Homo sapiens: one gene and its partners. The protein of the gene in region 4 purifies or fractionates together with the protein of the main gene of each other region. This does not show direct contact. Each region holds a gene or a part of one and is shown on either strand. Other genes may lie near its edges.

What was found.
Region 1: the proteins of PLD2 (region 4) and DNAJC7 purify together in Homo sapiens (affinity purification with mass spectrometry; 4 studies listed by BioGRID and IntAct, with this or other methods). This does not show direct contact.
Region 2: the proteins of PLD2 (region 4) and DNAJB14 purify together in Homo sapiens (affinity purification with mass spectrometry, with the first as the bait; one large-scale study listed by BioGRID). This does not show direct contact.
Region 3: the proteins of PLD2 (region 4) and UGGT1 purify together in Homo sapiens (affinity purification with mass spectrometry, with the first as the bait; one large-scale study listed by BioGRID). This does not show direct contact.
Region 5: the proteins of PLD2 (region 4) and CAV2 fractionate together in Homo sapiens (co-fractionation; one study listed by BioGRID). This does not show direct contact.
Region 6: the proteins of PLD2 (region 4) and SPAG1 purify together in Homo sapiens (affinity purification with mass spectrometry, with the first as the bait; one large-scale study listed by BioGRID). This does not show direct contact.
Region 7: the proteins of PLD2 (region 4) and HERC4 purify together in Homo sapiens (affinity purification with mass spectrometry; 2 studies listed by BioGRID and IntAct, with this or other methods). This does not show direct contact.

What each region holds. Positions count from the first base shown.
Region 1 is NC_000017.11:41,979,440-41,982,939, reverse strand, and holds part of DNAJC7 (dnaJ homolog subfamily C member 7), read left to right. Parts: intron 1-538; coding exon 539-685; intron 686-932; coding exon 933-1,085; intron 1,086-3,500. UniProt on the Homo sapiens protein: Acts as a co-chaperone regulating the molecular chaperones HSP70 and HSP90 in folding of steroid receptors, such as the glucocorticoid receptor and the progesterone receptor.
Region 2 is NC_000004.12:99,905,119-99,908,618, reverse strand, and holds part of DNAJB14 (dnaJ homolog subfamily B member 14), read left to right. Parts: intron 1-2,007; coding exon 2,008-2,102; intron 2,103-2,465; exon of another isoform or gene 2,466-2,581; intron 2,582-2,912; coding exon 2,913-3,022; intron 3,023-3,500. UniProt on the Homo sapiens protein: Acts as a co-chaperone with HSPA8/Hsc70; required to promote protein folding and trafficking, prevent aggregation of client proteins, and promote unfolded proteins to endoplasmic reticulum-associated degradation (ERAD) pathway.
Region 3 is NC_000002.12:128,097,700-128,101,199, forward strand, and holds part of UGGT1 (UDP-glucose:glycoprotein glucosyltransferase 1 precursor), read left to right. Parts: intron 1-3,500. UniProt on the Homo sapiens protein: Recognizes glycoproteins with minor folding defects. Reglucosylates single N-glycans near the misfolded part of the protein, thus providing quality control for protein folding in the endoplasmic reticulum.
Region 4 is NC_000017.11:4,820,541-4,823,930, forward strand, and holds the end of PLD2 (phospholipase D2), read left to right. Parts: intron 1-1,252; coding exon 1,253-1,367; intron 1,368-2,099; coding exon 2,100-2,324; 3' UTR 2,325-2,890; downstream 2,891-3,390.
Region 5 is NC_000007.14:116,505,890-116,509,041, forward strand, and holds the end of CAV2 (caveolin-2), read left to right. Parts: intron 1-81; coding exon 82-232; coding exon of another isoform or gene 233-270; 3' UTR 271-2,652; downstream 2,653-3,152. UniProt on the Homo sapiens protein: May act as a scaffolding protein within caveolar membranes. Interacts directly with G-protein alpha subunits and can functionally regulate their activity.
Region 6 is NC_000008.11:100,161,587-100,165,086, forward strand, and holds part of SPAG1 (sperm-associated antigen 1), read left to right. Parts: intron 1-692; 5' UTR 693-694; coding exon 695-834; intron 835-3,500. UniProt on the Homo sapiens protein: May play a role in the cytoplasmic assembly of the ciliary dynein arms. May play a role in fertilization. Binds GTP and has GTPase activity.
Region 7 is NC_000010.11:67,991,784-67,995,283, reverse strand, and holds part of HERC4 (probable E3 ubiquitin-protein ligase HERC4), read left to right. Parts: intron 1-2,601; coding exon 2,602-2,678; intron 2,679-2,960; coding exon 2,961-3,085; intron 3,086-3,500. UniProt on the Homo sapiens protein: Probable E3 ubiquitin-protein ligase involved in either protein trafficking or in the distribution of cellular structures. Required for spermatozoon maturation and fertility, and for the removal of the cytoplasmic droplet of the spermatozoon.

The DNA of each region.
Region 1 (3,500 bases), about 37 Mb from region 4:
CACCCAGGCTGGAGTGCAATGGCATGATCATAGCTCACTACAACCTTTGCCTCCCAGGTTCAAACAATTATCCTGCCTCAGCCTCCCGAATAACTGGGATTACAGGCACATGGTACCACGCCTGGCTAATTTTTTGTATTTTTAGTAGGGATGGGGTTTCACCATGTTGGACAGGCTAGTCCCGAACTCCTGACCTCGGGTGATCCATTCTGTCAAGCTTGATTCCTCCCATCTTGGGCCAAGGGCCCCTCCTTTCTTTCGTGCTACCGAAATAGAAGCAAACCTGTGTTTAGAGTTCCCTTTTCTGTCTCATTTACCTGCATCTCTCATTGATGCAGGCCTCCCAAAGTGCTGCGATTACAGGCATGAGTCACCGTGCCTGGCCGAGTAGATTTTTTTTCTAATCTCCAGAAGAAAGCACCGTAAAAGTCCCTGGCATGGTTAACAAGGCCTCTAACTCCCAGGCAGCTGGGCTGAGACCTGGTGAGGAAAAAACCAGAGTCAGATTTGTCCACTGATGCCAGATGTCTTCCTGTAGAACACAAACAGCTCCTAAAAAATGCGCAGCTGGAACTGAAGAAGAGTAAGAGGAAAGATTACTACAAGATTCTAGGAGTGGACAAGAATGCCTCTGAGGACGAGATCAAGAAAGCTTATCGGAAACGGGCCTTGATGCACCATCCAGGTAGAGTAGGTGCGGGGAGTGGGCTCAGTGGGAAGAACCCGCAGGGCAGGCCAACTGCCACACTCAGTCCAGAGGGGACCCCTTGGAGAGGTCCTTCAGCTGAGAATAAGGTGTTGCAGACTTGTGGACCCTCCAAATTTTGGGAAGTGCCAAATTCCAAAATTAGACAGAAAGTAGTTTTTCTCTTAAACTTTGTTTTCTTGAAACTTTGATTTCCACTGAGTTGTTCTTTTACTCCCCACTTTAGATCGGCATAGTGGAGCCAGTGCTGAGGTTCAGAAGGAGGAGGAGAAGAAGTTCAAGGAAGTTGGAGAGGCCTTTACTATCCTCTCTGATCCCAAGAAAAAGACTCGCTATGACAGTGGACAGGACCTAGATGAGGAGGGCATGAATATGGGTGGTGAGTTGGCTGGGGCAGCCTGGGATGAATTTGACAGCTGTAGAATGTTAGAATTTTTTCCAAAGATGCTCCAGAGGGAGAGTCTATTTGGGCCAAATCTGATCCCTGGTCCAAACAGTAATAGACATGGAGTCAAACAAATGCAGTCAAATGTGGCAGGTTCACAGTGTGCAGTGAGCTCTGAGGAGGCGAGCACTAGCAAGGGAAGGCTTGGAAGTGCAGAAAAGCATGGCCCCATGGGTCATGCCTGTAATCCCAGCACTTTGGGAGGCCAAGGCAAGCAGATCACTTGAGGTCAGGAGTTTGAGACCAGCCTGGCCAACATGGTGAAACCCTGTCTCTACTAAAAATACAAAAATTAGGCTGGGCGCGGTGGCTCATGCCTGTAATCTCACCACTTTGTGAGGTCAAAGCAGGTTGATCACCAGGTCAGGAGTTTGAGACCAGCCTGGCCAACATGGTGAAACCTCGTCTCTACTAAAATACAGAAATTAGCCAGGTGTGGTGGTGGGCGCCTGTAATCCCAGCTACTCGGGAGGCCGAGGCATGAGAATCGCTTGCACCCAGGAGGCGGAGGTTGCAGTGAGCCGAGATTGTCCCACTGTACTCCATCCTGGGCGACAGAGCAAGACTTTGTCTCAATTAAAAAAAATAATAAGAAGAAAGAAAAAAGAAAAATTAGCCAGGTGTGGTGGTGCACACCTGTAATCCCAGCTACTTGAACCCGGGAGGTGGAGGTTGCAGTGAGCCAAGATGGCGCTACTGCACTCCAGCCTGGGCAACAGAGTGAGACTCCATCCCTCCCCACTAAAAAAGCAAAGCATGGCCTCTTTGGGGATCTGCAGGGGGCTTGGTCTAGGGAAGATAAAGGGATAGGGTGCTAGAGGCAGGTGGTGGTGGAAGGCCGGCAAGTAGCTGGATCAGAGCTCACAGGCCATAAGGGCTGTATGTGGTAAGGAATATGAGCATTTTCCTATTATCTGGAAGTTCTTTTTTACCCACTGCAAAGTGTATGCTGACATTTATGTATGTCATACATTCCTATAAACACTCACAGATTTTAATTTCCCAAAAAGATTTAGCATGATATAAAGCACACCTATTGTCAATATTGTTGCTCACTGTGGGCTGTCAGAGATAAGAGGCCCTGACCTGTGAGCTGGGCGCGGTGGCTTACGCCTGTAATCCCAGCACTTTGGGAAGCCAAGGCGGGCAGATCACCTGAGCTCAGGAGTTCAAGACCACCCTGGGCAACATACAAAATACCAAAAAAATTGTACTCTCTACTAAAATACAAAAAAATTAGCTGAGCATGGTGGTGCATGCCTGTGGTCCAAGCTACTCAGGAGACTGAGGCACCAAAAACTCTTGAGCCCAGGAGGCAGAGGTTGCAGTGAGCTGAGATTGCGCCACTGTACTCCAGCTTGGGTTACAGAGTGCGACTCCATCTCAAAAATTAATTAATTAATTCAGTCAGTCTTCACTCTAAGTTGTCTGCCAAAAAATTTGCTGGGCATGGTGGCTCACGCCTGTAATCCCATCACTTTGGGAGAACAAGGTGGGCGGACCACAAGGTCAAGAGATTGAGACCATCCTGCCCAACATGGTGAAACCCCGTCTCTATGAAAAATACAAAAATTAGCTAGCCATGGTGGCGCACGCCTGTAGTCCCAGCTACTTGGGAGGCTGAGGCAGGAGAATCGCTTGAACTCGGGAGGCGGAGGTTGCAATGAGCTGAGATCGCACCACTGCACTCCAGCCTGGCGACAGAGCAAGACTTGTCTCAAAAAAAAAAAAAAAAAGAGGACCTGACCTGTGAATGGTGAACAGACCTACCATCTCTTCCACTAAGAAAATCTATTGGGATTTTGTTTTTTGTTTTGTTTTGTTTTTTGAGACGGAGTCTTGCTGTGTCACCCAGGCTGGAGTGCAGTGGCACCATCTCGACTCACTGCAACCTCCGCCTCCAGGGTTCAAGTGATTCTTCTGCCTCAGCCTCCCGAGTAGCTGGGACTACAGGTGTGCGCCACCACGCCCAGCTAATTTTTGTATTTTAAGTAGAGACGGGGTTTTACCATATTGGCCAGGCTGATCTGGAACTCCTGACTTCGTGATCCACCCACCTCGGCCTCCCAAAGGGCTGGAATTACAGGCGTGAGCCACCGCGCCCGGCCTTTTTTTTTTTTTTTTTTTTTTTAAGACTGAGCCCAGTCTGGGTGCAGTAGTGCCATCTTGGCTCACTGCAACCTCTGCCTCCAGGGTTCAAGCAATTCTCCTGCCTCAGCCTCCTGAGCAGCTGGGATTACAGGCATCCACCCCCATGCCTAGCTAATTTTTATATTTTTAGTAGAGACAGGGTTTCACCATGTTGGCCGGGCTGGTCTTGAACTCCTGACCGCAAGTGATCTACTGGCC
Region 2 (3,500 bases), on a different chromosome or scaffold from region 4:
CTACATTTCTTGTAGTGTTACGATCCTGTAATGGTTTTTCATGAAAGCAGGAGAAAAATATTAGGGTTATTACTTTTATAATAGCCTGCCTTTTTCCTAGAACATATTTTAATTTAAAAAAATGAAGAGTACAGATATTCTGTATTTTATATAAAGCTGAAAGGGAATGTAAGCAGGAAATGTAATGGCAATGTCTTAGGTAAGTACTATTATAATTATGAATGGTTTTCTTTACTTAAACCTGGATAACTATTTGACATTGCTTCCCTAGAGATCTTTGTAAATATTTTATCAATAACATTATAGTTGGCTAATTTGGATATATGTAGAGGTACTCATCTCTATTTCCATTTAAACAGTAGAAAATCTGATTCATAGGTTATATACAAAGTAAGTGGATTTTTAAGTTTACATTAAAATAGAAATAGCTAACTTTAACTAGACTATCAAAGTGAAATATTGTAGTGATACTAAGATTTTATAGTACCAACATAAATAGTATCAAACTCCACTTACATTTACAGTAAGTGGTCACTTAACATAAGGTTTTTGGAAACTGTGACTGTAAGTGAAACAATGTTCTGTATAACAACTAATTTTACCGCAGGCTAATTGATATAAACAACAGTTAAATTGCTAAGGCATATAGTACATCATGTTTACTTGAAGTTGCAGTTTCCAAGGACCTCTTGATGACGTTAAGTGAGGACTTACTGTACTGTGAGTTGTTATTGTGGAAATCTATTTTCCTTGAATGTAGCTCCTCTAAGGTACTTAAAATTATAGCTTTAGTCTTGTTTACAAAATTTACTTCAGGTGCTGAAGTAAATCCCATTCAACATTAAGAGAATCTTCATGAATGTAGCAGTATAATTGGACCTGGTGGCCCTCTCTGAATATTATTGAGAAAGGTTGTGGTCATTTCTTTCTATTTTTTAATAGAGACAGGGTCTTGCTCTGTTGCCCAGGCTGGAGTACACTGGGGCAATCATAGCTCAGTGCAGCCTCAAAATCCTAGGCTCTACCAATCCTCCCATCTCAGCCTCCCAAGTTGCTGGTACTACTGACATGTACCACATGTCTGGCTAATTTTTTTAAAACTTTTTTGTAGAGACAGGGTCTTGCTATGTTGTCCAGGCTGGTCTTGAACTCCCAGCCTCAAGCAATCCTCCCACCTTAGCCTCCCAAATCCTGTGCTGGGATTACAGAGGTGAGCCACCATGCCTGGCAAGGTTGTGGTCATTGATAGGACGTTTTGCAAAGCATCCTTGAAGGAAAGAGGATATATAAATGCAAATTAATGACTGAAAATATAACCTGTGTTTTGACATGTTAGAATACATAATTACAGAAAAATTATTAAAACTAGTAATTTTGACTGGAAGTATACTAGGAACAATCAGAAATCTTTCAGGCAGTAGTAAATTTTCTTCTGATACTTGATTTGCAGTTATTTTGCTAGTTATAACATAGTTTGTCAATGGTAGCCATTTCTGATTGGTCATCTTATATGAAAACAACTTGAATGTTTATCAGCAAGAGAGTGTTTGAATAAATTCTGGTCCATCTATACCAAGATATATTATAGGGCTATTTTTTAAAAATGAATTTGAACACTATCTTTTGATTTCTAGAGATGTTTATGATTCATTGATAAATGCAAAAAGCAAAGTTTCAAAGTAATAATCCAACATTTATAAAAACAACTAATCACAACTAATCATAAACAAAAGAGGTTTATAAAAACCTCTATGTGTGTAGAGAAACTCTTAGTCAAGTTTTCATAAAGAAGGAACTTCTACCTGTAACGGAAGCAGATTGGGAAGAATCATTCCTATTTCTGTCCACCCTTCACTTACAAGAGGAGAGGGCAATAAGTATTTACTACTGAAAATACACATGCATTATTTTAGTAATTTTTTAAAATTAAAGAAAAATGTGAAAGAAAATGTATTTTTTCTGATCATAATTGCTCTCCCTAATTTAACCTTGCTTTTAATTTTTTAGGTAGTGTACATTCTTTTTCAAATGGAAGAGCTGGTTATAGCCAACAACATCAGCATCGACATAGTGGACATGAAAGAGAAGAGGAAAGAGGAGATGTACGTTTATGACTAGAAATCACAAAATGGCAAATTTCAGCTCAGGAAAAGTAATTAGAGTTGTCTGAAAAGAGGGCAAGTAGTTGTAGGAAATAATGAGTTTTCTCTTACTAGAGGTGTTTGGTAGAGACTAGAAAATCCTTAGGGACATTGTAGGAATAGGAAGAGAGGTCAGCCAGGGGTGGTTGGATAGTATGACCCCTTTAGATTTGTTATTCTATGATTCTAATGAAGGTACACCTGCACTATGCATGTTGTGAAGGTAACTTGTTATTGTTGGCCCTGAAGAATTTAGAGTACTGAAAAACTTGAATTGGAGGTAACTTTCCTTGTTCTAATGCAGTTATACCTAATTGCCTATAGCAATTTAATTACATGAAGTGGAAAGGTAAATGGAAAGAGCACTAGACTAGAAATTAAAAGGCCTGGCCCCCAGCTTTGCCACTCATCAGCTCCCATCTTCTACCCTCAAATCCAAGGTAAAAAATGGTTTTACAGCCTGCAGCATATTGATAGCGTCTCTGTGTGTGGGGGGGAGGGAGTCGGGAAAGAGAAAGAGAAAGAAATGAAGACTTCCTCATCTATAAAATGAAATCAAATTTTATCAGTGTTTTTCAAATCAGAATCTCCTGGTGATATGCCTGGATAATTATATTTAAGAATCATCCTATTGGCATGGTTACGCAGATTTGAAAGCACTGAACTAGATGATCTCAAATGCGCTTTCTGCCTCAAAATGTATGACAACTGTTGTATTATTAACAACTACAGTTATATTACAATTTGTTATTCTTTGATCATTTTTTATAGGGAGGTTTTTCTGTGTTTATCCAGCTGATGCCCATAATTGTATTGATCCTCGTGTCATTATTAAGCCAGTTGATGGTCTCTAATCCTCCTTATTCCTTATATCCCAGATCGTAAGTAGCCAAGTGAAGTTTTACAAAAAATGAATTGTTGCTATTTCTGACCTAGCTTCCTTTAAAGAGCTTGTGCTCTTTTAAACTTTTAAGTGCCAAATCTATTACTGCAAGTGTACCAGATTTTAAATTTCTATCTAATTTTTTAAAATAGTTACTTTAAGTAATAAATTTGTCTTATGTTGTTAATTTACATTTCTATTCTTCCACTGTGGATAAGGACAGAAATGCTATATTTGAACTTGATAACAATTTAATGTGGTAGGTAATGTGTTGACATTAAAGGCAAAAAATACTCTAAAGGACAAAACTAAAGACAGAGCAATGATTGATGTTACATAGATTTATATCATTAAGGGGAAAATGACTTTACTCTTCATTTTGCAAAATATCGATTAAATAAAAGCAAATATTACTTTTTTATGATGTATTTTTTTCACCATATACTTTATGTGTAAGAGGTCAGGACATAAAGGAA
Region 3 (3,500 bases), on a different chromosome or scaffold from region 4:
GGATGTATTGTACAAAGGCTGTTAGGACATAGCATCATTCAGTAGGACAAGGGCTATGTGGGTTTATAGAGCTATGTAGGAACTTTGGACAAATAACTGTGTTGGATAAGTTAGTATGTTACTTTCCAAAAAGCATAACAAGGAAAGAGAGGGTTATGTTTATTTATTTATTTATTTTTGGAGACAGGGTCTCGCTCTGTTGCCCAGGCTGGAGTGCAGTGGTGAGATCTTGGCTCACTGTGACCTCCGCCTCCTGGGTTCAAGGGATTCTCATGCCTCTGCCTCCTGAGTAGCTGGGATCACGGAAGTGCCCCACCACACCCTGCTAATCTTTGTATTTTTAGTAGAGAAGGGGTTTCGCCATGTTGGCCAGGCTGGTCTCAAACTCCTTAGCCTCATGTGATCTGCCTACCTTGGCCTCCCAAAGTGCTGGGATTACAGATGTGAGCCACTGTGCCTGGCCAGTTGTATTCAAATTTTCTCCTTATTTGAAGGAAGTTTTAAGAGGTGATTGATAAAAGGAAGAGAAGAGGGCTTAGCAACGTGGGGGAAAGAGGACATTTTTCCCTTAAGAACGTGGAAGAAGGCTGGGCACGGTGGCTCACGCCTATAATCCCAACACTTTGGGTGGACAAGGTGGGTGGATCACCTGAGGTCAGGAGTTCGAGACCAGCCTGGCAACAATTAGCTGAGCGTGCTGGCATGTGCCTGAGCATCAGATTAGGAGATTATGCCCATGCAGCTCAATCTTTCTTTTTAAATGATAAAACGGTGGCTAGGTACGGTGGCTCATGCCTGTAAATCCCAGCTCTTTGGGAGGCTGAGGTGGGTGGATTGCTTGAGTCCAGGAATTTGAGACCAGCCTGGGCAACATGGGGAAACCCCGTCTCTCCAGAAAAAAATAGCTGAGTGTGGTGGTTCGTGCCTATAGTCCCAGCTACTTGGGAGGCTGACCGGGAGGATCACTTGAGCCCAGGAGGCGGAGGTTGCAGTGAGCCCAGATCACGCCATTGCAGTCCAGCCTGGGCAGCAGAGCAAGACTCCGTCTCAAAAAAAAAAAAAAAGGGAAAGAAGTTATCTTACGATTAAAATGGGTAGAATTTTTCATAAAACAATAGTTGTCTTAAAATTAGTGAAACATAGTAATTTCATGAGAAATTTTGTATTCCAAGTGTGCTTTTTAGCTAGTGTTTGTAAATAAATATAATGAGATACCTGTCTGTATAGGTAGGGCTTAAATGCTTATGGATGGAAGGTTATTTGATTGTATCTCAAGTGATGTAGAGGTGGAACTAGCAGAGACTTTCCAAAGGATAAATGTGGGTAGATTGAGCAGCAAGCACTTGGTAAGTCTTAGTGTTTGAACGTGCTAGAAATTTGGACTGTCACATCACTCCAATCAGCCTTGTGGTCTGTCTTCTTCATCTTCAATTTATATATATATATTTTTTTGAGAGTTTTTGAGACAAGGCCTGTCTCTGTTGTTCAGGCTAGAGTGTAGTGGTGTGATCTCAGCTCCCTGTAACCTCTGCCTCCTGGACTCAAGCCATCCTCCCACCTAGGCCTCCCTAGTAGCTGGGACTACAGGTGTGAGCCACTACCCCTGGCTTATTTTTGTATGTTTTATAGAGATGGGCTTTCACCATCTTGGCCAGGCTGGTCTGGAACTCCTGAGCTCAAGTGATCTACCTGCCTTGGCCTCCCAAAGTGGTGGAATTACAGGTGTGAGCCACCATGCCTGGCCTCTAGAATTTTGTATTCTAACATTTTCCCCTTAATTCCTAGAAAAATGTGGATGAAGAATTTTGCCATGTTGATTGTGTGAACGAATGGTTGCACCTCTTAAGGAAAAAGCCTCATTTGATACTGCTAAAAGGACCAGTGGGAGGGGGCATGTGGCAGCCGGTCTTGGCTAGCTCAGGAGCCTAGCAGACTTTCTGCTAAATAGACTTCCTTCCATCGCCTCTCTCTGCCTTTCTTTCTCAGCATAGAAGTGGCAAAACAAAGACAAAACCATTGTATGTATTTCATGGTGATAACTAACTTGATAAATGGGTCAAGCTTGTCAAATGTCAGAACTTTATTTGATACAGCATAGTTGTAAAAGTGAAGTGGCTCTTTTTTAAGAGTTCTTATTATGGGGGAAAAAAGCCCAACAAAGCAAATAACAAACAAAAAAGCAGTGACTGAAGATATTTTGAGACTGCCTGAGCTGGACTGCCTGAGCTGGACTCTAAAAACTAAAGTTTTTCTTTTCCTTTTTGCTAATCTTATTTTGGATGATTTGTTTGGTATAAAATCTGTCATTGAGATTTACAACCCCCCCCCCCACCCTACTTATTTTTTTTGAGACAGAGTTTCATTTTGTCACCCAGACTGGAGTTCAGTGGCGCCATCTTGGCTCACTGCAACCTCTGCCTCCCAGGTTCAAGCCCATTCTCATTCTCCTGCCTTAGCCTCCCAAGTAGCTGGGATTACCGGCGTGTGCCAGCATGCCTGGCTAATTTTTATATTTTCAGTAGAGATGGGGTTTTACCATGTTGGCCGCCAGGCTGGTCTGAACTCCTGACCTCAGGTGATCTGCCCTCCTTGGCCTCCCAAAGTGCTGGGATTACAGGCGTGAGCCACCGGGCCTGGCCAAGATTTACTATCACTTTCTGAATCATTTTGTACAATTAACTGTAACAGGTGTTTTTGTGATATTCTGTTTAACATTCTTTTTTTGAGATGGAGTTTCGCTCTTGTTGCCCAGGCTGGAGTGCAATGGCGTGATCTCGGCTCACCGCAACCTCTGCCTCCCAGGTTCAAGCGATTCTCTTGCCTCAGCCTCCTGAGTAGCTGGGATTACAGGCATGCACCACCAAGTCCGGCTAATTTTGTATTTTTTTTTTTTTTTTTTTTTAGTAGCGATGGAGTTTCTCTATGTTGGTCAGGCTGGTCTGGAACTCCCCACCTCAGGTGATCCACCCATCTCGGCCTCCCAAAGTGCTGGGATTACAGGTGTGAGCCACCGCGCCAGGCCTCTGTTTAACATTCTTACCCTGAATTACATTTTGTTACTTTCACTTTTATTTACACTAATTTCTTGATAGTTGTACATTCTTGATCATTGTCCTAGAAGATTCTTACAGCATAAAACTATGGACTTTTGAGAAAGAATGCTAAAATTGCCAGCCCTAATTGCTCAATATTTTCAGTTTCTTTGATCACTGTGAAGTGGACAGGGTATACTGTTTTCTTCACCAACTTCCTTATCACAGACATCTCCCCCTTTCATGATATCCCTGGTCATTTGCCATTTTGTTTTATTTTTATTAATTTTTTTCCTTGGCATGTGAAGTAAGAGCTACATTTGCCCTTTTGGTTTACTATTTTTAGGCCCCTTCTCCTGTGGCTATTTGTATACAGTTTCCCAAGGTAATACGACATGTAGGCAACTCATAGAAATGAGCTATGCTTATTAGAATCCACTTAGTATTCACCTCCAGAGCTAGCAGAGC
Region 4 (3,390 bases):
ACCACCGCCCCTGGCCAAAAAAAAAAAAAAATCTTTTTTTTTTTTCTTTTTTTTTGAGAGGGAGTCTCACTGTCGCCCAGGCTGGAGTGCAGTGGCGCGATCTCGGCTCACTGCAGGCTCCGCCGCCCAGGGTTCATGCCATTCTCCTGCCTCAGCCTCCCGAGTAGCTGGGACTACAGGCACCCGCCACCTCGCCCGGCTAATTTTTTGTATTTTTAGTAGAGACGGGGTTTCACCGTGTTAGCCAGGATGGTCTAGATCTCTTGACCTCGTGATCTGCCCGCCTCCGCCTCCCAAAGTGCTGGGATTACAGGCATGAGCCACCACGCCCGGCCAAAAAAAAAAAACTTTTGTGTTTTGTTTGTTTGTTTGTTTTCTTTTTGAGACGGAGTCGCTCTGTCACCCACGCTGGAGTGCAGTGGCGCGATCTCGGCTCACTGCAAGCTCCGCCTCCCGGGTTCATACCATTCTCCTGCCTCAGCCTCCCGAGTAGCTGGGATTACAGGCGCCCGCCACCATGCCCAGCTAATTTTTTGTATTTTTAGTATAGATGGGGTTTCACCGTGTTAGCCAGGATGGTCTCGATCTCCTGACCTCGTGATCCGCCCATCTCAGCCTCCCAAAGTGCTGGGATTACAGGCATGAGCCACCGTGCCCGGCCAAAAAAAAAATCTTTTAAAAGTAATTTTTTTCACAGGTTCTGAGGATTGGGGAAAGAACAGAAAAAGAAGAAAATTTAAAATAAAAATAATTTTTTAAAGCATCAAGGTAGTCATCAAAGTCAAGACAAATCAGAACTCTGTTGGCTTCTTTTACACTTATTTTACTATTTTATATTGCATTTATTTTGTTTTTGTTTGTTTGTTTGTTTTGAGATAGGGTCTTGCTCTGTCACCCAGCTAGAGTTCAGTGGCGTTACCACGGCTCACTGCAACCTCGACTTCGCCAGCTGAAGTGATCCTCCCACTTCAGCCTCCCAAGTAGCTGGGACTATAGGCACATGCCACCGTGCCTGGCTAATTTTTGTATTTTTTTGTAGAGATGGGGTTTTGCCATATTGCCCAGGCTGGTCTTGAATTCCTGAGCTCAAGCAATCCACCTGCCTCATCCTCCCAAAGTGCTGGGAATACAGGCGTGAGCCACCGCACCCAGCCAATTTTGAATTACCTGAGTAGGGACAATGTAACTTTTCTGGTACTCAGGTTCTCTAAGGATCTTAATCTGGCCCTGCTGGGACCCCTTTCTCCTATAGTGTGATTCTTGGAGCAAATACCCGGCCAGACTTGGATCTCCGAGACCCCATCTGTGATGACTTCTTCCAGTTGTGGCAAGACATGGCTGAGAGCAACGCCAATATCTATGAGCAGGTGGGAACTTGGGAGGGGTGGGGGAGAGTGGCCTGGGGAAATTTGTGGATTATCCTGCTCAGGGTAGGATGGAGAGAAGCGCCACCATACAGTCATTATTGGAAGGGGGATGAGGGCCTGGGGACATTTGCTATCAAGAGATTTAGTGGCCCAGGCCGGGTGCAGTGGCTCATGCCTGTAATCCCAGCACTTTGGGAGGCCAAGGCCCGGTGGATCACCTGAGGTCAGGAGTTTGAGATCAGCCTCCCAACATGGCAAAACCCCATCTCTACTAAAAATACAAAAAAATTAGCTAGGTGTGGCTGGGAGGCTGAGGCAGGAGAATCTCTTGAACTCAGGAGACAGAGATTTCAGTGAGCCGAGATCACGCCATTGCACTCCAGCCACCTGGGCAACAAGAGCAAAACTCTGTCTCAAAAAAAAAAAGTACAAAAGTTAGCCGGGCATGGTGGTGGGCACCTGTAATCCCAGCTACTCAGGAGGCAGAGGCAGGAGAATCACTTGAACCCGAGAGGTGGAGATTGTAGTGAGCCGAGATCGCACCATTGCACTCCAGCCTGGGCAAAAAGAGTGAAACTCCGTCTCAAAAAAAAAAAGAGAGAGAGAGTTAGTGGCCCAGGGTCAACGGGGGGTATGGAGAGATGGTATGGGGGAAGGGGTCTAGCCTAGTTGGACTTAGATTGTTGGGAGAGTCTCCCCAAGCCTTACTGGCGTCCATGCCCCCGCCCACAGATCTTCCGCTGCCTGCCATCCAATGCCACGCGTTCCCTGCGGACTCTCCGGGAGTACGTGGCCGTGGAGCCCTTGGCCACGGTCAGTCCCCCCTTGGCTCGGTCTGAGCTCACCCAGGTCCAGGGCCACCTGGTCCACTTCCCCCTCAAGTTCCTAGAGGATGAGTCTTTGCTGCCCCCGCTGGGTAGCAAGGAGGGCATGATCCCCCTAGAAGTGTGGACATAGTTGAGGCCCCCGTCAGGGAGAGGTCACCAGCTGCTGTGCCCCACCACGTCTGGCTCCCTGCCCCTTAACCCCAAGGACTGAGGGCAGTGCCCTTTGAGATCTGGGGAGGCAGGCATTCCTGAAGGGAACTAGAGGTGTTACAGAGGACCCTTACGTGAGAAATAGCTGAAAAGGGCACTCCCAACCCTGGGCTGGGGAGGAGGAGAGAGTCCCAGAGCTCATCCCCCCTGCTGCCCAGTGCAAACCACTTCTCCATGCTGCAAAGGAGAAGCACAGCTCCTGCCAGGGTGAGCAGGGTCAAGCCTCTTATTCCAGGAGAAGGGGGCTCTGCCCCAGGCCCTACTACCCATTGTTCCCTTCCTCTTCCTGCCCTTGAACCCCCTCCCTGTCCCAGGGCCCTCCCAGCCCATTGCTGCCAAGGTGGAGGGAAGGATAAAGCCACTTCTGGCTTCAGCCCCCACCAGGGGAAGGAAGGAGGGCACATTAACTCCCTCCACCAGCCTGCTGACAGACACTAACTTTGTATCCGTTCAATAAGCATTTCATAAATAAAGGTGTAGAAAAGGTTCATGCGTCTTCCTTGGAGGAACTAACTGCTCGTTCCAGCCTCCCGTTCCTGCCCACACGGGGCACCAGTCCCCTTCACCTTATCTCCACCCTCCTCCACTCTCCTCTCTCCACCTCTGTTCTACCTATCTGTGGCTTCGGGAGCTCGGTCACCTGGCTCCTGAGAGGAGAAGGTGTTGACACAGTGCCGCCTGGGTAGAAGGACGGGCAGGGCCCAACCAGGGCACCTGGAGAACTGTGGAGCTGCTATCACAACCGCAGGTGAGGGAGATGCTCTGAGAAGGACCTAGAGAGGCTGCCTCTTGTTCAAGCAACAGCCCTGGTAGAGGCTTAATGAAGGCCCTGTGGGAGTGGTTGAGGGTATAGGCTTAAGGTCAGGAAGACCTGGACCCAAATCCTGGACTCCTCAATGAGAAGCTAGGTGAACTTGTCAAGTCATTCACTTCTCTGGGCCTCAGTGGTCCCCGCTGGGAAATGGGAATAATACTTACATGACTAG
Region 5 (3,152 bases), on a different chromosome or scaffold from region 4:
TTTATCTTTTCATACATGTACAAGACAGACCTTATTTGGTAACAGCAACAATCCTCACACATCTCTCTTCCTTCCTTCCAGGATTTTAATGCCTTTTGTAAAGACCTGCCTAATGGTTCTGCCTTCAGTGCAGACAATATGGAAGAGTGTGACAGATGTTATCATTGCTCCATTGTGTACGAGCGTAGGACGATGCTTCTCTTCTGTCAGCCTGCAACTGAGCCAGGATTGAATACTTGGACCCCAGGTCTGGAGATTGGGATACTGTAATACTTCTTTGTTATTATAACATAAAAGCACCACTGTTCTGTTCATTTCCTAGCTGTTCTAATTAAGAAAACTATTAAGATGAGCAACCACATTTAGAAATGTTTATTGACAGGTCTTTTCAAATAATGCTTTTCTAATTAATAGCCAAAGATTTCATATCTAACTTTGTAACCAGAATTATACAGTAAGTTGACACCACTTAGATTTAAAGGCAGACAGTTTTGCTTTAGTACAATAGTATACATTTTATAATGATGAACTTATAATGATTAAGGGACATTTCTATAAAAATACTACAATAGTTTTATGCACAACTTCCCATTAAAAATGAGATTTCTTATTTGTTTGTCTGTTTTTACTCTGGGAGTAATACTTTTTAAATTACCTTTACATATATAGTCACTGGCATACTGAGAATATACAATGATCCTGGAAATTGCAGTAACAAAAGCACACAACGATTATAGTAACTATAAGATACAATAAAACAAATAAATATGAAAGTAGATTCATGAAAATGTATTCCTTTAAAATATTGTTTTCCTACAGGCCTATTTAACAAGATGTTTCATTTTACTGTATATTTTGTAGTTAATATAAATGTTGCTCTAATCAGATTGCTTAAAAGCATTTTTATTATATTTATGTTGTTGAACTAATATATGAAATAAGTAAATGTAGCTCCCACAAGGTAAACTTCATTGGTAAGATTGCACTGTTCTGATTATGTAAGCATTTGTACATCTTCTTTGGAAATAAAAGATAAAAGAGCGATACACAAAGCTTTCTTTTCTAACTTTTCCAAGCAAAATCTAAAATGTTTTATGACATTTTTCTGGCTGTGATCTTAAAATAATTCATATCTAAATAGTATTTTGTCTAGGAGATGCTTTCTCTCTAGTAGTTAGAAATTAAATCTGTGTCAGCATTCCTATTAATGTCTCACTTTACTTTCAAGTAATATTGGTGCTATTTAACATTTTACAGTAAATGTTACTTCTGATACTTTAGTACAATTTCAACTACAGTGATTCATGTAGAGAGACAGGGGAGTTGTCAACTTGGGCTACTGAACTACATGCATAAACTAAAAACTAACAGCTACAAACTTTTAAGATTTCTCTAATATTGGTATGTAACACAGGATAAAGTTATTCTTGTCATTTTGAACTGTAGAGTCCTATTTCAGTGTGATGAATCACTGTTGCTTTGAAAAATCTCATTATTTCTGGGCCGGGCATGGTGGCTCACCCCTGTAATCCCAGCACTTTGGGAGGCCAAGGCGGGTGGATCATGAGGTCAGGAGATCAAGACCATCCTGGCCAACATGGTGATACCCCGTCTCTACTAAAAATACAAAAAAATTAGTTGGGCATGGTGGCATGCACCTGTAGTCCCAGCTACCTGGGAGGCTGAGGCAGGAGAATTGCTTGAACCTGGGAGGCAGAGGTTGCAGTGAGCCAAAATCATGCCACTGCACTCCCGCCTGGCAACAGAGCAAGAGTCTGTCTCAAAAAAAAAAAGAAAAAAAGAAAAAAAGAAAAAAGAAAAATCTCATTATTTCAAAATGATAGACATATACCAAAAACAAGTCTATAATGTGAGTAGTTACTAAAATTTACACATCTTAAAAGTGTGTAAATGCTTAAATTTCAGAATTACCATCAGAACCTCAATTGACATTCCTTTGAATACGCTAATAAGTGACAAATAAGATTAATAAGATTTTTCAAAATCGCCAGGACTGGTGAATATAAATGATGATTGAACTGGAATAATATTGGGGACCAAATCAAATGAATGATTAAATTATGAAGCTCATATCCTTTTGAAGGTAGTTGCAAAGAGACATTTCAAAACTGCCCTAGGCCATTGCAGCATCCTTAGATGGGACGCATAATCATTACCTTAAAGCATCACCACTCATTTTGACCATATAGATTTTATTATGTTAGTTTAAAAGGTCAATCAGCCTCATGACTTTATAGTTATGTCTTGTATTTAAAAACATTTTTTATACATTTGGTTATGTTGATAAACCAAAAACATTTGATTAATAAAATATCTATTTGAATAAATTATGAGCTATCCTTTCAAACAGCTATTGGCAAGTTTTAAACCCAAAATATATACACATAGTTCTGTAATAAAACTGTTTGACTTCTCAAGTAACATGACTTCCTTATTTCTGAACAGTACTGGTTACTTTCAAAATGAATTTTTATTGAGATTTTCCATTAACTATTTTTTTCAAAGACTCAAATTTTGTACCAAGTAAATCCAGGCTTTATGTACAAACATGTTGTTTGTTTTATTTGGGGCTGGGGGAGGTATATGATGAGCAGACTTCTCGGAATTCATAATAAATTTTCTAAAAGCCTACAAATGTGTGTATTGCTTTTATTACAGTAAATATGGAATCTTTCATACTTATTTTTACCTTATTAAAAACTCAAAATAGATAATAAATACATTAGTTATTGCTTATTTGGGAATGTATTTTTAAAAATTATTACATTAGTAGTTGAATTCTTTGTTTTCCAGCACTTAAAGAGGTTCCATATAAATGTTCTATCATTTGATGAATAGTATAAAATAGCCTGTTCACACACCCACCATACTTCTTCTTTTTTATAGTCTCTTCTTGCTAATCCTAAATAAACTGAAATTTGTTTCCAATTTTTAAAATAAGAAAGTAACAATATAAATCACAGGCACTTGGATACCTGTACCATGAAGCTAGACTAGAGTCCAAAATTATTTTTGGAAAGTGAGTATGTGAAGAGTAGTTGCTGATGTTGGCATACATTTTCTTGTCAGTTCATCTGGAAAAACGACCAACCTATAATAATAAAGCAGGTGCTTGGCTTTTTAAAATGTTC
Region 6 (3,500 bases), on a different chromosome or scaffold from region 4:
CTTAGGATTAAACAAGTTTTACTGTGGGTCTGAAGAAACTCCCCAGACCTCCACAAACAAGTTTATGGAGGGTCTGAAGGAACTCCCCAAACCTCTGTGATTTAGCAGGAGACAAGATAAGGGTAATTGCCCCAGCACCTGGACCCATTTAAATTAAGTAAATTTACTGAGACCCCAGAGGAAGGTCTTCAGCACTCAGACTTTAGATATAGATTAAAAGAAGTTAATCACTTATGTCTTTAGATGAATGCACGCTTACACATGGACATATGGCTTAGAAGGTATATAAGCTCTGGAAAACTTTGTAATTTTGAGTTGGTCTGGTGATAATTTCCAGGCCTTCTCCCTGTAGCCAGTTGCAGAAGTAAATAACGTCTTCCTCCTCGGTTCATCTGCATCTCGTTATTGGGCCACAAAACTAGCAGGCCAACCCTCAGTTTGGTCCAGGAACACCTAGGTGGGACAGGCACAATGGCTCATGCCCATAATCCCAGCACTCTGGGAGGCTGAAGCAGGAGGATTGCTTGAGGCCAGAAGTTAGAGACCAGCCTGGGCAACATAGGGAGACTCTGTCTCTACAAAAAATTTTTAAAAATTCAAAAAAATACAAAGAAGTACCTACATGGTTACCACTATCCAAATTGAGTATTATTTATACATTAGATTAATAACTTTTAAATATTGTATTTCAGCTATGACCACCAAAGATTATCCATCATTGTGGGGCTTTGGAACAACAAAAACATTCAAAATTCCCATTGAACATCTAGATTTCAAATACATTGAAAAATGTTCAGATGTTAAACATCTGGAAAAAATTCTTTGCGTGCTCAGGTAAGCATTTTAAAATCATTACATGTTTTAGTATGACAGTTTTAATTATCTTGTTGTTACCTTCTAAAGGTAAAAGCTACATTAGAAATATCTGTTTTTGCCCATGCATGGTAGGTCCCAAAATAGTGGTTTTGATCCTATGGTTAGTTTGGAGAGTTCCACCTAGGTCTACTGCCAGCATGAGACGCAGGCTAATTAATATCCAGGAGGGTATTTTTCTTGCCTTCTCTACATTTTCTAGGAGAAGGTAAAGTAGCTGTGAAAGCAGCCATTAGGATGGGCTGTGATGGCTCACGCCTGCAACCCCAGCACTTTGGGAGGCTGAAGCAGGTGGATCATTTGAGCTCAGGAGTTCAAGACCAGCCTGAGCAACAGGGTGAAATCCTATCTCTACAAAAAATACGAAAATTACCTTGGCCTGTAGTCCCAGCTACTCAGAAGGCTGAGGTGGGAGGATTGCTTGGGCCTTGGAGGCTATAGTGATCCCTGGTTGTGCCACTGCACTCCAGCCTGGGTGACAGAGTCTCAAAAAATAAAAAAATAAAAAATAATAATAAAAAAAATAAAAAAAGCTATTAGGAGGTAAGCTTATCTCACCAGCCTAGGCTGGTGGCACTTTCCCACTTCATATCACCTGACAACAAGGGAGGGTGACCCACCGCACACTGATCACATGGAGGGTGGTGGGGAGGCCTGACGGTAATACCAGAAGGCAGGGAATTAGGACCTTCTCAGGATAGAGCTCCATTCTAGTGACTGTCCAACTGAATATACATCAAATGTGGTTGTTAAAAATGCACATTTGAGGGCCCTATTCCCAGCGATTCTGCTTCAAAAAATCTGGGGTAGGGCCAGGGAACATGTGTTTTTAACAATGGAGCTGGCTGATTGATATGTAGGTGTTCAAGGAACCCACTTGAAGAAACACTGTCCTGAGTACCACCAACCTGTGACACCTCTTTTGGATTTCTTTTCTTTCTTTCTTTCTTTTTTTTTTTTTTTAAGACTGGATCTCACTATGTTGTCCAGACTGATGTCAAACTCCTGGACTTGAGCAATCCTCCTGCTTTGGCCTCCCAAAGTGCTGGGGCCTCTTTGGGCCTCTTGAGCTATTTTCATTTGGATACCAGAGTTCTATTGCAGAAGACACTTGTGGAGCATGAACTGCTTTCCAGGACATCTAGAATTCCTATTACCCTGTGGTGGTTCTTTATTTCCTCTATCCCTATTCCTTATCACTGGGTTCTTCCCTTTTTCTCTTTCATCACCTTTAGCTTCCTTTCTTCCCTGTTGGTCCACAGCCAGATGCTGATGTGATAACATCATCATTTTTAAAATGGAAAGTGAAAAATCAATAATATCAATTGTTTTCCCTTTTTTAGCAGAATATTATCATGTATACTTGGTCAAGGACGGATAAATAAAAATGAAAAGTTTATTGGATGAAACAGTTGGAAAGCTACAGTTATAATAATGTTGGTTCCAAGAAATTTTATGAATAGCCTAATTCAGTGATAATATATTGAACTTGGAATTGTTTTTTAAAATTTAATTTGGAAATGAAATTTATTTATATTTTTCTAGAAATGTAAGAGTGAACAGACCTAAGAAAGAATGGGAAAGGACTGATTTTCCTTAAAATAAAAGGAACAGATGTCTCCATTTAACTCTCTAAGGAAGGAATTCTGTTCCTTGAGTGGTTGGATTTCAGGGTGTTTTGTTTAAGCTGTTTATCTGCCATTTTCTTCCTACCTCTTTGAAATAAAAAAATTTATGAACAGAAACTCCTTGTTGAAAAGGAAGTCCAAATTCTCTTTCTGCTAGTCTCTAATATTGAATTTATGAGCTTAATATCATGTACAAAATGAACATATGAACATATATATGTTGAAGAGAAAATATTGTTTTTGTTAGATTAAAATTTTGTTTCTTTGGTTGATATTAAACTGAAATTTATATGATACATGAGATTTGAAACTTAGAAAAAGTAAATGATAAAATTTTTTTTTATTTTTATTTTTTGAGATGCAGTCTCACTCTGTCACCCAGGCTGGAGTGCAGTGGTGCGATCTCGGTTCACTGCAACCTCTGCCTCCCAGGTTCAAGTGATTCTCCTGCCTCAGCCTCCTGCATAGCTGGGATTACAGGTGCCTGCCACCACGCCCGGCTAATTTTTGTACTTTTAGTAGAGAGTCCATTTCGCCATGTTGGCCAGGCTGTTCTCGAACACCTGACCTCAAGTGATCCACCTGCCTTGGCCTCCCAAAGTGCTGGGAATACAGGCCTGAGCCACAGTGCCCAACCTGATAAAAATTTAATATAGTTAACTATTCATTGATATGTTTATTGACTTCATCATAAGCTATATATTTAATTAAAAATCAAACTATGAGTCTGCAAACCAGATGCTATCAAGCAAATTACCATCCATGATCCATAATTCTTTTTATATTTTTAACTCAGACAAATATGTAAGATTCAGTAAGTTTTAATGTTTCAAATGTTTTCCAAAAAATTATCAGAAGCTCCCAGTTATAAAATAGTTGGAGAATCCATTCACCCCAAATGAACTACCTGTTTGTGTGTGAGGTAGCAATCTTCTGTGACACTATTACCCTTAATTCATATGAATTCCCTCTTCACATGAAGAGTACAGACAACAAACA
Region 7 (3,500 bases), on a different chromosome or scaffold from region 4:
ATCAATGCCTACTACCACCACAAAAAAGAACTCAGTGAAAATTCTTCTCAAAGGAATTATGTGTTTCCTGATGGAACTACTCTCCTGCCTCCATGTAGTAGTTTTACTGAAATAACCAAATGGTGATTGAAACCTGTCTAGATTCAACCACCAATTTACAGAACAGAAGACCAAGCCAAATGTTAGGAGAAACCACAAAGATAAAGTCAGCAAAATCCAGTCTGCATAAAGTTGTACAGGACAAATGACTAGGTTTCTCAAACTTTTTCGAGTAGTGATTAAAAGGAAATTAAGGATAGGATGCAGTGGCTCACACCTGTAATCCCAGCACTTTGGGAGGCTGAGGTGGGCAGATCACTTGAGGTCAGGAGTTCGAGACCAGCCTGACCAAAATGGTGAAACCCCATCTGTACTAAATACAAAAATTAGATGTGGTGGTGGGCGCCTGTAATCTCAGTTACTCGGGAGGCTGAGGTTGCAGTAAGCCGAGATCATGCCACTGCACTCCAACCCGGGCGACAGAGTGAGACCTGTCTCAAAAAATAAAAATAAGGCCAGGTGCAGTGGCTCACACCTGTAATTCTGACACTTTGGGAGGCTGAGGTGGGCGGATCACCTGAGGTTGGGAGTTCGAGACCAGCCTGACCAACATGGAGAAACCCCGTCTCTACTAAAAATAAAAAATTAATCAGGAGTGGTGGCCCATGCCTGTAATCCCAGCTAATTGGGAGGCTGAGGTGGGACAATCGCTTGAACTTGGGAGATGGAGGTTGCGGTGAACCAAGATCGCGCCACTGCACTCCAGCCTGGGCAACAAGAGTGAAACTCCGTCTCAAAAAAGAAATAAATAAAAATAAAAAAAGGAAATTAAGGAAACTTAACTTTTGGTACCTAACTCATAGCCTCCAGAAACCCATTCATGTACTGTAGATTAGTCAACCATCTTGTAGGGAATTGTTTATAGAGGGCACAATCACATTTTAAGAGTAAATAAATAACATCCTGCTAAATCTTTTGAGGAAATGAGCAATTCCATATAGATTTGTGAGAATTATTTAGAAAAAAGATTTTAGGTTGAATAATTGGCTTATTTAATAAAGATTTACCCTTTTATTCTATTCTTAAAACTTGTTTTTGGCCTTAGGGTATTCTTGTGACTTACGGAAAATTTGATAGTAATTATCAAATTATTGTTCTAAACTCTGAAGCTCATTTTTGGTATAACCTAGATAACAATTGCATATTTGTATGGACAGGTATTTACTGATTTCTTTTACAAATAAAACATTGTGCTTGCTTGTAAGGAATAATCAAGGAAATTAACATGTGGTCATTTCCTTGAAAAGAATGGATAATTCTATAGCAGCCATGGTCACAAATAATACAAGGTGAAGAATTAGTCAACTAAGGAATGGGAATAGGATAACAGGGATAGACTATGGACTAGCCAAGCAATATTTTTGGTAATAGATACTCTTTCCAGTTTGGGGAGCAGAAGAAAAGAAAAAAAAGAGGCCCGGAATATCTTTTTCAAAAGAAACTTTGTTGCCCTTTCTTTATTCCTAATAAATTTGCTTATTAATGTATTCACTTTGGGGCCTAATTTGGCTTTTACTGACAAATAGCTGCCAACAAAGAGCTGTATGTATTATCTTGTACACCTATATTGAAAAAAAAAATTCTGCATTATGAAATATTTACTCCAGAAGTTTTAATTTTTGTTTGCTGTTTCTTTTTAAGAATAATTTTTTTTTTTTTTAGAGATGGGTCTTGCTATGTTGCTTGCTGGAGTGCAGTGGCTAGTCACAGATGCAGTCATAGCATACTGCAGCTTTGAACTGGGCTCACGCCATCCTCCTGCCTCACTCTCCCAAGTAGCTGGGACTACAGACATGTGCCACTGTAGCCCAGTTCAATTCTTTCTTTTTTTTTTTTTTTTGAGGTGGAGTCTTATGCTCTGGCCCAGGCTGGAGTGCAGTGGGGTGATCTCGGCTCACTGCAACCTCCGCCTCCTGGGTTCAAGCGATTCTCCTGTCTCAGCCTCCCAAGTAGCTGGGATTACAGGCACACACCACCACGCCTGGCTAATTTTTGTATTTTTAGTAGAGATGGGGTTTCACTATATTGGCCAGGCTGGCGTCGAACTCCTAACATCAAATGATCCTCCCACCTCAGCCTCCCAAAGTGCTGGGATTACAGGCATGAGCCACTGTGCCTCGCCAAGAATAAATACTCTTGATTTTTATTTCCTTCTAGCTATCTTTTGTAGCTTTTGTTCTATTTTTTTTAAATCATCTTTGGTTTAAACTGAAATATACTGAGATGCAGATTAGAAAAAGCTTTTTTTCTTGGTGCAGGGCAGAAGAAAGGCTTGTAAACTTCACCAAATGCTGCTTATGCTTGTGGGATCGTTTAATGTTCATCATTTGGTCAGTCTCATCCCCATAGCAGTCAGAATATTTCAAGTCACTTTATACCATGAAGTCCATGAATGGGAGGCCTTATTAAATAAGATGATTATGTGAAAATCTAATGGCATATTGATGCTCTGAAATATGTTATGTAAATCTTGGCTTTTAATTTTTTACATTTTTATTACAGATTCTGAAGAATATTTCTGTGTAAAAAGAATTTTCTCAGGGGGAGATCAAAGCTTTTCACATTACTCTAGTCCCCAGGTAATAATATAGTCATGTAAATAATTAAATAGCTCCAATAATTTTGACAAATTTTAAAAACCCATTATTAATGTTCTTTATATGTTACAAAGTAATTGCCTTAGTTTTTTTCCCCTTAAGTCTACAGAATAAGTTTTTTCTGATCTATTTGATAGGTTTTTGTTTCAGGTGTTCAGGAGAGATTTAATTCTGTTTAAAGAACAAATATATGGTGGGAATTTCTTGGTTTTTGAGTTATATATAATATCTCTTCCCTCTGACTAATCTTATTTGAAAATTTAGAACTGTGGGCCACCAGATGACTTCAGATGTCCCAATCCGACAAAGCAGATCTGGACAGTGAATGAAGCTCTAATTCAGAAATGGCTGAGCTATCCTTCTGGAAGGTTTCCTGTGGAGATAGCCAAGTAAGAAAAGCATTTTGGGCCAGGCACAGTGGCTCATGCCTGTAATCCCAGCACCAGGCAGATTGCCTGAGCCCAGGAATTGGAGACCAGCCTGGGCAACATGGCAAAACCCTGTCTCTACAAAAAAATACAATTAGCTGGGCGTGGTGGTGCACACCTGTGGTCTCAGCTACTTGGGAGGCTGAGGTGGGAGGATCAGCTGAGCCCAGGAGGTCGAGGCTGCAGTGAGCTGAGATTAACACCATTGCACTGTAGCCTGGGCAACAAAGTGAGAACTTGTCTCCAAAAAAAAATATCCATGGATATTTTTAAAGATCTTAATTAAATATGTATAAGTTGTAGTTCTTTCATGTGCATAGAGATATGTTAAATGATAACATAAAATATTTAATGTAGCCATTTTAGGATTGGCCTT